3 linked regions of the Homo sapiens genome follow. The protein of the gene in region 1 purifies or fractionates together with the protein of each later gene. This does not show direct contact. Each region holds a gene or a part of one and is shown on either strand. Other genes may lie near its edges.

What was found. The genes of interacting proteins can lie anywhere in the genome.
Region 2: the proteins of ZNF562 (region 1) and KNG1 purify together in Homo sapiens (affinity purification with mass spectrometry; 3 studies listed by BioGRID and IntAct, with this or other methods). This does not show direct contact.
Region 3: the proteins of ZNF562 (region 1) and NPW purify together in Homo sapiens (affinity purification with mass spectrometry; one large-scale study listed by BioGRID and IntAct). This does not show direct contact.

The regions. Positions count from the first base shown.
Region 1 is NC_000019.10:9,667,625-9,672,886, forward strand, and holds part of ZNF562 (zinc finger protein 562), read right to left. Parts: intron 1-5,262. UniProt on the Homo sapiens protein: May be involved in transcriptional regulation.
Region 2 is NC_000003.12:186,719,550-186,724,571, reverse strand, and holds part of KNG1 (kininogen-1 isoform 1 precursor), read right to left. Parts: intron 4,468-5,022; coding exon 4,357-4,467; intron 2,136-4,356; coding exon 2,051-2,135; intron 1-2,050. UniProt on the Homo sapiens protein: Kininogens are inhibitors of thiol proteases.
Region 3 is NC_000016.10:2,017,625-2,021,968, forward strand, and holds NPW (neuropeptide W preproprotein), read left to right. Parts: upstream 1-2,160; 5' UTR 2,161-2,277; coding exon 2,278-2,688; intron 2,689-2,908; coding exon 2,909-2,995; 3' UTR 2,996-3,131; downstream 3,132-4,344. UniProt on the Homo sapiens protein: Plays a regulatory role in the organization of neuroendocrine signals accessing the anterior pituitary gland. Stimulates water drinking and food intake. May play a role in the hypothalamic response to stress.

The DNA of each region.
Region 1 (5,262 bases):
CTCTGTTGCTCAGGCTAGAATGCAGTGGTGATCATAGCTCACTGCAGCCTTGGTCTCCTGGGCTCAAGTGATACTCCTGCCTCAGCCTCCCGAGTAGCTAGAACCACAGGCATGTGTGACAATGCTAACTTTTTTTTTTTTTAGAGACTGGGGGCAGAGGGGTCCTCAATATATTACCCAGGCTGACCTTGAACTCCTGATTTCAAGTGATCCTCTTGCTTTGGCCTCCTAAAGTGCTGGGATTACAGGCATGAGCCACCATGCTCAGCTGACATAATCATATTTAGAAAAACCTAAAGACTCTACCAAAAACCTGTTAGAACTGATAAATGAATTCAGTAAATGTTCAGGACACAAAATCAACATACAAAAATCAGTTGCATTTATATACGCCAACGGTGAACAATCTGAAAAAGAAATCAAGGAAGTAATCACATTTACAATAGCTGCAAAGACTATAAAATGCCAGCACCAGGCATGATGACTCACAATTGTAATCCCAGAATTTTGGGAGGCTGAGGTGGAAGGATTGCTTAAGCCCAACAGTTCAAGACCAGCCTGGGCAACATGGCACGGCTCAGTCTCAATTAAAAAAAAGAAATTAGCCAGGCATGATGGCACACACCTGTAGTCCCAGCTACTCAAAAGAGACTGAGGCAGGAGGATTCCTTGAGCCCAGGAGTTCAAGGCTGCTGCATGAGCTACAACTGCACCACTGTACTCCAGCCTGGGCAACAAAGTGAGACCCCACCTCTGAAAAAAAGAGAAAATAAAAAGTAACCAAAAATGTGAAGGAGCTATACAAGGAAAACTATAAAACACTGATGAAACAAACTGTAGAGAATACAGAAAAAAAATGGAAAGACATTCCATGCTCATGGATTAGAAGAATATTGTTAAAATGACAATACTACCCAAAGCAATTTACAATTAAGAGCAACCGTTATCAAAATAGCAATGACATTCATCGCAAAAATAGAAAAAAAATCCTAAAATTTATATGCAACAATAAAAGACTTCAAACAGCCAAAGAAATACTGAACAAAAAGAACAAAGCTGGAATCATCACACTGCCTTACTTCAAAATATACTACAAAGCTATCATAACCAAATCAGCATGGTACTGACATAAAAAAAACAAACAAACACATAGATCAATGGAAGAGAACAAAGAACCTAAATACAAATCTACACATGTACAGACAGCTCATTTTCAACAAAGGCACCAAAAGCATACAATGGGAAAATAACAGTCTTTTCAATAAATGCTGCTGGGAAAACTGGATAACCATATGCAGAATAAAACTAGATGCCATCTCTCAGCATAAAAAAAAAAAGTCAAAACAGATTAAAGACTTACATCTAACACCTGAAACTATAAAACTAGTAGAGGAAGACCCTTGGGAAACAATCCAGGGCATTGGTCTGGGTAAAGATTTCTTGGGAAGATCTCAAAAGCACAGGCAACAAGAGCAAAAACAAACATATGAGATTACATCAAGCTAAAAAGCTTCTCCACAGCAAAAGAAACAATCAACAAAGTGAAGAAACAATCTACAGTATGGGAGAAAATATTTACAAACTATCCACCTGGGATTAATAATCAGAATATATAAGGAACTCAAACTTGATAACAAAAAAAATCCGATAAAAAAATCAGCAAAAGGTCAGAATAGATGTTTCTCAAAAAAAAGACATACAAATGGCCAACAGGCATACAAAAAAATGCTCAACATCACTAATCATCAGAGAAATACAAATCACACATAACCACAATGAGATATCATCTCACCTCATTTAGAGTGGCTTTTATAAAAAAGACAGGGAATAACAAATGCTGATGAGGATATGGTGAAAAGATAATCCTTGTATGCAGTTGGTGGGAATATAAATTAGTACAGCCACTGTAGAGAACAATATTCAGGTGTGGTGGCTCAGGCCTTTAATCCCAAAACTTGAGGCTGCGGTGGGAGATCACTTGAGCCCAGGAGTTCCAGACCAGGCTAGGCAACACAGCAACACCTGTCTGTACACACATGCACGCACAAAACCTGTCTGAAACTGGCAAGACCTGTCTGCATGCACGCGCGCGAGCGCGCGCGCGCGCGCGCACACACACACACACACACACACACACACACACACACACACAACCAGTCAGGGACAGTAGCTCATGCCTGTAATCCCAGCTCTTTAGGAGGCCAAGGCAGGCAGATCATTTGAGGTCAGGAGTTTGAGACCAGCCTGGTCAACATGGTGAAACTCTGTCTCTACTGAAAATACAAAAATTAGCTGGGCATGGTGGCGTGCACCTGTAGTCCCAGCTACTCCAGAGGCTGAGGTAAGAGAATTGCTTGAACCCAGGAGGCGGACGTTGCAGTGAACCAAGATCGTGCCACTGCACCCCAGCCTGAGTGACAGAGTGAGACTCTGTCTCAAAAAATCAAAGAAACAAACAAAAAAACTTAGCCAGGTGTATTAGTGGAGGCCTGTAGTCCTGGCTACTCAGGAAGCTGAGGTGGGAGGATCACCTGAGCCCAGGAAGTCAAGGCTGCAGTGAGCCATGATTATGCCATGGCACTCTAGCCTGGGTGACACAGCAAGACTATCTCAAAAAAAACAAAACAAAACAAAAAAAACAGTATGGGGGTTTCTCAAAAAATTAAAAATAGAACTACCATATGATCTGGAATCCCATTGGGTATATATCCAAAAGAAAGGAAATCAATATATTTGAAAAGATATATATACATTCCCTTGTTTACCGCAGCACTACTCATAATAGCCAAAATATGGAATCAACCTAAGTGTCTAACAATGAAAGAATGAATAAAGAAAATATGGTATATATAGACAGCAGATTATTATTCAGCCATAAAGAGAATGGAATTCTGTCATTTGCAGCAACTGGATAGAACTGGAGGTCATCATGGAAGTGAAATAAGCCAAGCACAGCAGACAAATACCCCATATTCTCACATGTGGGAGCTAAAAAGTGGATCTCATGAGCATAGAGTACAGATTGATGGTTACTAGAGGCCAGAAGGGTAGGAAGGAGACGGAGATAAAGAGAGGTTGATTAGGCTGAGTGAGGTGGCTCATGCCTGTAATCCCAGCACTTTAGGAGGCCAAGGCGGGCAGATCACCCTGATTATGTGAGATCAGGAGTTCGAGACCAACCTGTCCAATATGGTAAAACCCCGTCTCTACTAAAACTACAAAAATTAGCCGGGTGTGGTGGTGCACCCCTTAATCCTAGCTACTCGGGAGGCTGAGGCAGGAGAATCACTTGAATCCGGGAGGAGGCAGAGGTTGCAGTGAGCCAAGATCATGCCACTGCATTCTAGCCTGGGTGACGGTGAGACTCCATCTCCCAAAAAAAAAAAAAAAAGAGGTTGATTCATCGGTAAAATATACAGTTAGAAGAAATAAGAACTGGTATTCAATAGATCAGTAGGGTGACTACACTTAATACGCATCTATCATACATTTCAACACAGCTAAGAGAATAACGATGTTCCTACAATATAGAAAAGATAAATATTTAAGGTGACAGGTATGCTACTTACCCTGATTATGTGAATGTATCAAATTATCACATGTACTCTGAAAATATGTTCATCTATTATGAATCAAAAAAATTTTTCTGGATTGTAAAATAGGGAGTGGGAGATTCTGGGGCCACCATGTCTGTGGGTAAAGATATTCCCTTGTCTGGATCATGTAAAGACATCCCTCCAAGATGTCACTCCAAGTTACTGCACCTAATACCACCTACCATTAACAAGGAGCAATGAGCCATGATTATGCCATTGCTCTCCAGCCTGGGTGATCCAGCAAGACTTTGTCTCAAAAAAAGAAAAAAAACCCAGCATGGAGGTTTCTCAAAAACTACCATCCATAGACCTCTTGAATTTTGGAGGCAACACATACATTTGCATGTACTTTAACGCCCCACACAGTTACCTGTAAGGATTCTAGTTTCAACTGTAGACAAGAGCAATTTCAGGCTGCAATGCAAGCTTCCTAAGCACTTGGTCCACCTGATCCAGCAGACCCAGTGATACTCAACGTGTCCATGTTAAATGGCATGTTATTTATTGGAAGCCTCCGGCATGCACCAACAGAAGATGTAGAGTACAGCCCTCTGGTATTGCAGAGTCAATCCATGCCCTCTTGTGCAGATTAACTGTTTTTCTCTTGAGAAACAGGTTGTGGTTTGCCACTAGCACATGACAGAGAATGAACAACTAGTCATGGGACATGAAGTAACTAAGGCTGAACTGAGTAATTTGAGACTTTCTGGTCCCCAAAGCATGAAGTACATACTGTCACCCATTATCAAACAACTGTTGTCAGCCTCTCCTCTGGACCCAATTCCAAGTTTGTAGGAAATCGCATGAAATAAAGGAATATTTACACACACCATGAGAATCCAATCAGAAATATCTGATTGTATGACTTTCTAAGAGAATGAGTGTGACTCTCTGAAAGTCAATATAATGGACAGTAATAACTGTTATAGGCAAAAAGACACTGAAGACACTGACAATTGCAATGCAAAAATCTTGAATGGATCTTAGATCCAAAAACACCCAAGAGCATACGTTGAATCAATGAGGAGAATTTTAGTTATTACGGAAAGTAGACATTAGATGACATTATTATTTTTAATTTAAGTGAAATACTAGTATTGTGGTTTTAGTATGACAATGCCTATTTTTAGGAGGTGCATTACAAAGTATTTAAAGGTCAAGCATCACATGTACAATTTATGCTCAATTTACACTCAAATTGTTCACTGTAAGATTTACATGAGGAGAAAGAAATAAAATGCTAAAAAATTAAGTAAATCTACTAGACTGGGTGTGTTAGATGTTCAAGTTTTCCTTAGGATCAAATTTTTCAGAAAAAAATGTAAAAACTACACTTAGTCCAAACATGCTCTTAATAAATTATACAGATACTAGATATTTTATTACACTGATACTAGAATACTATTCTGATTATAATAGTAAATAATTCTAGTGTCAGTGTAATAAAGCCTCCATTCTTTCTTCCTGGTTCCTGGAGGCCTCTGTTTTGAAGCACTGTGGGGAAGTACAGACCTAAGAACTTCAGATGAAGAGAATAGTTGAGTATTATTGCCTTTCTTTTTTTTTTTTTTTTTTTTTTAGACAGTTTCGCTCTTGTCACCCAGGCTGGAGGGCAGTGGCGGGATCTCGGCTCAATGCAACCTCCGCCTCCCGGGTTAAAGTGATT
Region 2 (5,022 bases), on another chromosome or scaffold:
CAGTAGGCATTTCTCAAAAGACGACATACAAATGGCCAACAGATATGTGAAAAAATGCCCAGTATCACTAAGCATTAGGGAAATGCAAATCAAAACCATTATGAGATGAGATATCATCTTACCCCAGTTAGAATGGCTATTATTAAAAAGAGTTTGTATTAAATTATCAAGTAATGTTCATAACAGATAGCCCTAACCTACTGGTCAATAGAGGCAAAGTCCATAAAAAGGGAACGTAGCTGCAGAGTGAGTGGCACACCTGGAGGGACCCCCTGGGAGCCTGGACTTCTTCACCACAGAGCTCTCGCTGCCTGCCATGTAAGCGGTAAACACAGCCAGGAGGATATGGAGAAAAGAGAACTCTAATGCACTGTTGGTAAGAATGTAAATTAGTGCAACCACTATGGAAAATAGTGCGGAGATTCCTCAAAAAATGAAAACACCAAATACCATATATCCAGTAGTCCAGCTACTGGGCATCTACCCAGAGGAAAGTAAATCAGCCTATCAAAGGGGTACTTCCACTCCCAGGTTTGTTGCAGCAGTATTCACAATAGCAAAGATATGAAATCAACTTAAATGTCCATCAAAAGGTGAATGAATAAAGAAAATGTGGGGGACCAGGCACAGTGGCTCACACCTGTAATCCCAGCACTTTGGGAGGCCGAGGCGGGTGGATCACCTGAGGTCAGGAGTTCGAGACCAGCCTGGCCAACATGGTGAAACCCCATCTCTACTAAAAACACAAAAATTATCCGGGCGTGGTGGCGATGCCCATAATCCCAGCTATTCAGGAGGCTGAGGCTGAGGCTGGAGAATTGCTTGAACCCGGGAGGTTGCAGTGAGCCTAGATCGTGCCACTGCACCCCAGCCTGGGCGACAGTGCGAGACTCTGTCTCAAAATGAAAAAAAAAAAGAAAGAAATTGTGGTATATACTCACAATGAAATAGTATTTGGCCGTAAACAAAGAATTGAAATCATATCATTTAAAGCCACATGGACAGAACTAGAGGTCGTTAAGTGAAACAACTCAAGCACAGAAAGACAAACTTCACATTGTTCTCACTCACATGTGGAAGCTAAAACCATCACATGGAGATAGAGAAGAGAAGAGAATGACAGATACCAGAGGCTGAGCGGGGTAAGCGGGTAGAAGGGGGAAATGAAGAGGTTGGTGAATAGGTACTGAATTATAGTTAGATAGAAGAAATACGTTCTAATGTTACATAGCAGACTAGAGTGTCTATAGTTAGCAACAATATATTGTATATTTCAAAGTAGCTAAAAGAGAGGACTTGAAATATTACCAATTCATAGAAATGATAACTATTCCAGGTGATGGATACCCCAAATACCCTGACTTAATCATTACACGTTCAATGCATGTAAAAAACACTCACATGTACCTCATAAATATGTAAAATATTATGTATCAGTAAAAGAAAAAAAGAAAAAGAAGATAATACATGTAAGGTGCTTTGAGTCATGGCTGGGACATAAGGACTCAATATATCTTAGCTATTACTTTTATCCTGATTGTTGCTAATATGTTATTATGATTAATATGTTAGTATGTTATTATGATTGTACCTCCAGGCATATCATCTCATTTCAGCCTCACAACAGTCCTGTGAAGTGGGAAGTACTCTTACCTCCCTTTTCTAGACAAGGAAAAGGAGAGGCAAGAAGGCAAGGAGCTCTGAAAGATTCCAGGCCAGGTCTGCCCTCAAAGCCTATGCGCTCCTCAATCTGGGATGCTGCCTGCAATGGAGGGCAGGTCTTATGTCTTCTGGTCCTTCTGTTGAGCCCTTGCACACACTGGGTACAATGCAGCACACGGGAAGAGTTGGGATAGTCCTAAGGGGATGATGGTCACAAGCCTGGCTCAACCTCCGGGCTCTGCCGCTCCACCCAATGCTCCCTAACTCTGCAAATGGCTTTACTACTGCCACCCTCTGGGAGCAAGCAGAGCCTGGTCAAGATTGTGTTCCTGGCTCACAGAAATGGTTAATTTCCCACCAGGGCAGTGCCAGAGGATAAACCAGCCACCTGGAGTAATCTGGCAGGTCTGGGTAGCCACGGAGAATTTCGTACTGCTCCTCTTCCCCACGGTTGCCGTGCATTCTCCAGTGGCCTAAAAAGAAAAGAAAGAGATCATTTATCTTAATCTTTCAGATGGGAAAGTCTACCTAATACTGTTGCTAAATGTGGCTTTCCTTAAAAAGCAAAACAAAACAAAACTTGTGAAGATTTTACCAAAAGAGTTTTGAGACATGAGAATAAATTTTTTTAATAGCCTAATGATTACTTTATATAAGCCACTGATATTCATGAGATGCTGGAGGAAAGACAGTGTAAATGATGAGGTTTTAAAGCTTGAGTCTTTGTTTTGAGCCCTGGAGGGTATTTCTTTTTTCTTTTGTTTCCTATTTTTTTTTTTTTTTTTTTTTTTTGAGACAGAGTGTTGCTTTTGTTACCCAGGCTGGAGTGCAACAGTGCGATCTCTCGGTTCACTGCAACCTCTGCCTCCCAGATTCAAGTGATTCTGCTGCCTCAGCCTCCCAAGTAGCTGGGATTACATGCACGTGCCACCACACCCAGCTAATTTTGTATTTTTGGTAGAGACAGGGTTTCACTACGTTGGTCAGGCTGGTCTCAAACTCCTGACCTCAAATGATCCAATCACCTCGGCCTCCCAAAGTGTTACGATTACAGGTGTGAGCCACTGCACCTGGCTGAGCTCTGGAGCTATTTCTTTCTAACCAAGATGGACGCAGAGGTCTAGAACCAGCCTGCTAAACACTCCTCTTATCTACCACTCAACTTCAGTGAGTTAATACTGTTCACATAAACTTCAGTTTAACTTAATAGAAAGGGCAAGGACCTTGGCATCAAAATGTTATTCAGTTCCAGCCTTGTCACTTGCTAGCTGTTAACTCTGTCATGTCCCCTTGACTCTTGGAGTCTCAGTTTACCCGTCTTGTAGAAGATGGGATACATCTATCTCTTAGAGTTGTTGTGAACAGTATGTGTGCAAACACACACAAAATGCCTACTAGAGGCCCGCCACACAGCAGGCACTTAATAATAGGCAGCTGTTTAATTGTTATTGTTGAACAGTGTTTTTGTTTTGTTTTGTCTTTTCATTCTTCAGTCATATCCATTGGATTCTAAGTGACAGATACTATTCCATCAGGATAAAGCACACCTCCCTTTGTCCACACAGCCCCTAGAAGCAGGCAGTACAGAGCACAGCAGCTACTTATCCCCACCTTACAGATGAGATGACTGAGAAGGGAGAACCAGCACTGCAAAATCCTAGACTCCTGACTTGGAGTTCAGTACTCTTTGGTAATGGCAGATGACTGGCAGTCATCTTTTATGTTCTGACATAAAAGAAGGGAATCAATCCATGAAAAGAGAGGCTTGCTTCTGAGGCAGATACTGTCTGAAATCTTTCTTAATTAAAGCAAAACAACCATGGCTGGGCGTGGTGGCTCACGCCTGTAATCCCAGCACTTTGAGAGGCTGAGGCAGGCAGATCACCAGGTCAGGAGATTGAGACCATCCTGGCTAACACGGTGAAACCCGGTCTCTACTAAAAACACAAAAAATTAGCCAGGCGTGGTGGTGGGTGCCTGTAGTCCCAGCTACTCAGGAGGCTGAGGCAGGACAATGGCGTGAACCTGGAAGGCAGAGCTTGCAGTGAGCCGAGATCGCGCCACTGCACTCCAGCCTGAGCGACAGAGCGAGACTCTGGCTCAAAAAAAAAAAAAAAAAAAAAAAGCAAAACAACAACCAGCTATGGTGTGCCAGGCCTATATGTTAGGCATTTGGTTAAGATAGCCATTGTTATCAAAGTTATTTGCATAATTCATCTGATTTCATCCTCCAACAACCTGATGAGGTCAATATTATCTCCCATATACAGCAGAAAGTGCCAGTTCTGAGAGGTCACAGCTCCCCCGCTATCACACAGCTAATGGAAGGCAGAGTCAAGATTTGCACTTAACGTTGTGCAATGGAAGCACCCACCCCCTCCCCTCGCCAGCTCTTTGGCTTGGCCCAAATGTCAATTTGTTATCTCTCTGGAGTCTGAGCCACATGTTCTGGCTGGACACTAGAGCCCCCTTCTCATGGAAAGGCTTTCTCCATGTTTAACTGCTGGCTTCTCCATGATTTTTCTGTCTATACAAGAACACAGATATAAAGCATCTGACTTTTCTACACATTGGAATGTTTATTTGCATTTCTCATAAACAGGCTCACCAGTAGCCATCATTTCTGCATCAGTAAAAAAATCTGGCAGGGTCAACGGAGAAAACAGAAGGCCCAAGAATGGCCAATACACTTACTGCTTTTGCAGCATCCTTGTACTCACAGTCCTGCCAGGTTTTGCCACTTTGAACAGGACAATCCCCCTCCTTGATTTCGTACTTGAAGGAATAAAACGTGTCAGAGCCAACCTGAAAAGCAGCCAAAGATACTTAGGGTTCATCCAACTGACCCAACAGCAAATAATTCTAGTGGGTTCCGGTAAAGTTAGGAATATTGATCTTTGACTTGAGAGCAAAGCATTCACTTAAAATATATTTATATTTCTATCATAAACATTTATGTGAAAGAATGTTTATAATATATTCACAATGTACTTTTAAAGGTTACAAAGCAGTATGCATAGTATTAGCCCATTTTTGTCAAAACTGGTTTATATATAAATCTATGTCTTTTAAAAGTCTGGAAAGATACACAGCAAGCTGTTAAAATGTTTGTCTGTCAGTGGTGAGATTATAATTATCTTTCACTTTCTTCTTCAAGCAAACATTTCTTTTTTTTTTTTTTGAGATGGAGTCTCGCTCTGTCGCCCAGGCTGGAGTGCAGTGGCGTGATCTCGGCTCACTGCAAGCTCTGCCTCCCGGGTTCACGCCATTCTCCTGCCTCAGCCTCCAGAGTAGCTGGGACTACAGGCGCCCTCCACCACGCCTGGCTACTTTTTTGTATTTTTTAGTAGAGACTGAGTT
Region 3 (4,344 bases), on another chromosome or scaffold:
TGGGACTACAGGCGCATGCCACCACACCCGGCTAATTTTTGTATTTTTAGTAGAGATGGGATTTCACTATGTTGGTCAGGTTGGTCTGAAATTCTTGACCTCGTGACATGCCTGCCTCGACCTCCCAAAGTGCTGAGATTACAGGCATGAGCCACTGTGCCTGGCAAGTTTTGTATTTTTAATAGAGATGGGGTTTTGCCATGTTGGCCAGGCTGGTCTTGAACTCCTGGCCTCAAGTAATCCACCTGCCTCAGCCTCCTGAAGTGCTGGGATTACAGGCATGAGCCACTGTGCCCAGCCTGCCCCCAGCCTTTCTGTGCCCTTCTGGACAGGAGTACCCTGTTCCCCCAAGCTGAGGCTCTTGGGCTCAGGTGCTAGGATGTATCTCACCTCCACCATTTACCCAACATGATCTGGGGCAGGTCAGTTCTCCCTGGGCCTCAGTTTACTCGTTGGTGAGTGGAGTCAATAATAGTTCCACTCATGACATTGTCTGGAGGTCAAGATGAGATAGTTCATGATGACCCAAAACGAGATCCCTGGTGTCTGGGACCCAGGGGCTGCCCCATGACTGACATGGTTGCTGAGGGAGGGCTGGATTCACCCTTGCTGGGAGGTCAGGAAAGACTGTGTCAGGCTCTGCCCTCTGGGAGGGGGTTGTTAAGCCCAGATGGCCACAGAGGGAAATTCTGAGGGACTGTCTGGCCCTGCGCCTTTTTTTTTTTTTAAGATGCAGTTTCGGCCGGGCACAGTGGCTCACGCCTATAATCCCAGCACTTTGGGAGGCCGAGGCGGGCGGATCACAAGTCACAAGGTCAGGAGATCAAGACCATCCTGGCTAACGTGGTGAAACCCCGTCTCTACTAAAAATACAAAAAATTAGCCGGGCGTAGTGGCGGGCACCTGTAGTCTCAGCTACTCGGGAGGCTGAGGCAGGAAAATGGCGTGAACCTAGGAGGCGGAGCTTGCAGTGAGCCGAGATCGCGCCACTGCACTCCAGCCTGGGCAACAGAGCCAGAATCCGTCTCAAAAAAAAAAAAAAAGATGCAGTTTCGCTCTTGTTGCCCAGGCTGGAGTGCAATGATGCAATCTTGGCTCGCTGCAACCTCCGCCTCCCGGGTTCAAGCGATTCTCCTGCCTTAGCTTCTCAAGTAGCTGGGATTACAGGTGCCTGCCACCATACCCAGCTAATTTTTTGTGTTTTTCGTAGAGATGGGGTTTCACCACGTTGGCCAGGCTGGTCTTGAATTCATGACCTTAGGTGATCCGCCCGCCTCGGCCTCCCAAAGTGCTGGGATTACAGGTGTGAGCCACCGCGCCCGGCCAAGGATCTGGGCCATTTAAGTGGAGTCTTGAAGGATGAGTAGGTGTTAGGCACAGACGCACAGAGGCAGGCAAAGCCACAGGCTGTTGGTTTAGGCAAAAATTGAGACTGGCTGGATAAAGTGGTCTTGGGGGACCATCACCAGAGAGGAGGCGCTGGAGGTCTGCAAGGCCTTGTCCTGCCCCTCCAGGGGTAGAGGTTCCAGGAGGGGCTGACTTTTTCTCCTGGAAGCCTCACAGAACTGCAGACCCCACGGATGGCTTGGTGTTGCCAACATGAGGCTTCTAAGGCTTCTGCGGGGAGATGGGTTGGTGGGGAGAAGCTGGGGGTGGCAGTGGACAGGACAGGGTGTGGGGACAGCTTTGGGAGCTATGCTAGGCAAGGACAAGGGACAACTCTTGGGGGGACTCACCCAGAGGGGTCTTGAATGGTGCTGAAGGCCCCCGACAGCCCTCCTGCAATAGCCACTGTAGCTCTGCCTGCACCTGGGCCTTCGCTCTGCTGTCGTCCCACCGGCAGGAGTCTGGCTAAAGGGGCATCCCTCAGCCCTACTCCCTCATCAGTGTTCCCAGTACCCACTCCCTGGCACTTCCACTCCTAGAGGGAGGAGGCTGAGCAGGCAGAGAATGGGACGTGTCCCCTCAGAGGAGCCTCGAGCCCAGTTCCAGCCAGCGGCCCACTCAGTGAGGTGCTCAAGTACCCACGTCCCCCGCCAGCTGCCAGGGTTCCCTCTCCTCCCTCCGTCCCTCCCCCCATCTGGGGAGCCCAGCGGTACTGAGGGGGCGGAACGAGGCGGGGCCACCGAGCGGTTATAGCTGGGCCTGCAGGGGACCCACGGCTCGCCTCCAGCCTCCTGCGCTCCGGTACCTGGGCGTCCCAACTCCACTGCGCGCCCAAACCCAGCCGAGCCGGTTCGTGGCCCGCCCCGCCGGGCGGCCGTCGACGCGAGCGCCCTGGCGTGGCGCCCAGGGGAGCGGGGGGCTCCCGCGAGCCGGCCGCGGCTGGCACTGCTGCTGCTTCTGCTCCTGCTGCCGCTGCCCTCCGGCGCGTGGTACAAGCACGTGGCGAGTCCCCGCTACCACACGGTGGGCCGCGCCGCTGGCCTGCTCATGGGGCTGCGTCGCTCACCCTATCTGTGGCGCCGCGCGCTGCGCGCGGCCGCCGGGCCCCTGGCCAGGGACACCCTCTCCCCCGAACCCGCAGCCCGCGAGGCTCCTCTCCTGCTGCCCTCGTGGGTTCAGGAGCTGTGGGAGACGCGACGCAGGAGCTCCCAGGCAGGGATCCCCGTCCGTGCGCCCCGGAGCCCGCGCGCCCCAGAGCCTGCGCTGGAACCGGAGTCCCTGGACTTCAGCGGAGCTGGCCAGGTACGTGAGAGGGGAGAGGCCTGGACCGCCGCGGGCAAGGGGGTCTCGGGAGGTCTGAGCCGGAGCACGGAGCCGCGCGTTCAGGGGGCACCCTCGGGCCCTTCCATTCCCTGCTCCGCGCCCAGAAGAGCTTTCCCTGGGCAGGCTCGACCCTGGCACCCGGGGGCGGTGGTTGGAGGGCCACAGCCTCCTCCCCACGGCCTTGCTGTGTTCTCGTTAGAGACTTCGGAGAGACGTCTCCCGCCCAGCGGTGGACCCCGCAGCAAACCGCCTTGGCCTGCCCTGCCTGGCCCCCGGACCGTTCTGACAGCGTCCCCCGCCCGCCCGTGGCGCCTCCGCGCCTGACCCAGGAGGAGTGGCCGCGCGCTTCCAGGAGCCGCTCATAGACCCCGCCTGCCGTCCGGTCAATAAAATCCGCCTGACTCCTGCGCCCCCGCATGCGACCCCTTCGTCTGCTTGTGTACTTTGCCGTCTAGCTCAGGGCGCAGACAGGCGCGCCCACGCCCTGGCAAATGTCAGGGGCCCCTCCCTCGCCGACCAGGGGAAGCGCCGGGCACTCAGCATTCATTTCAAACCTGGATCTCCCGGCACCCCCTCCCTCCCTTAGCCAAAGGCTTCCGCAGATTGATTAAGAACCCCTGGTCCCCTTCTTCTGGGTCATGCCCCGGGAGGAGGGGCCCCTCCACCTGAGCCCCACCTTGCTTCTTGCTTTTTTTTTTTTTTTTTTTTGAGATGCAGTCTCTCTTTGTTGTCCAGGCTGGAGTGCAATGGCGCGATCTCGGGTTACTGCAACCTCCACTTCCCAGGTTCAAGCGATTCTCCCGCCTCAGCCTCCTGAGTAGCTGGGATTACAGGCACCCACCATGATGCCCAGCTAATTTTTGTATTTTTGTAGAGACAGGGTTTCACCATGTTGGACGTGCTGGTCTTGAACTCCTGACCTCAGGTGATCCGCCCACCTCAGCCTCCCTCCCAAAGTGCTGGGATTACAGGCATGAGCCACTGCCCCTGGCTGCTCCTCTGCCTTTTTTTTTTTTTTTGAGACGGAGTCTGGCTATGTCGCCCAGGCTGGAGTGCAGTGGCGCAATCTCGGCTCACTGAAAGCTCCGCCTCCCGGTTTCACGCCATTCTCCTGCCTCAGCCTCCCGAGTAGCTGGGACTACAGGCGCCCGTCACCTCGCCCAGCTAATTTTTTGTATTTTTAGTTGAGACGGGGTTTCACCATGTTAGCCACGATGGTCTCGATCACCTGACCTCGTGATCCGCCCGCCTCAGCCTCCCAAAGTGCTGGGATTACAGGTGTGAGCCACCGCACCCGGCCTGCTTCTCTGCCTTTTATCCCCCTCTGCATGCACTTCTGGTCACTGGCTCCAGCCCCCCCACATAAATGTGCCCTGCCATCTTGAACACCGAGGACCTCCATCCACCAGGCCCCCTCCAGTTCCCTTCCCAAGGGTCTGGGCCCCTCCTCCCTCCCGCTGCCTCTTCAACCCTCTCTAATCTTCCCTGGGACTCCAATGACTGTCCTGGACCCCAAACCACCAAGGTCACATGCCCTGATGCAGCCCACCCTTGGAGCCCTCCTGTGGCCATGTGGCAGGGTCCCCCCTTGGGGCCACCCAGCAAGCATTGGGGGAGAGGTGGTCCTGGGCCTGG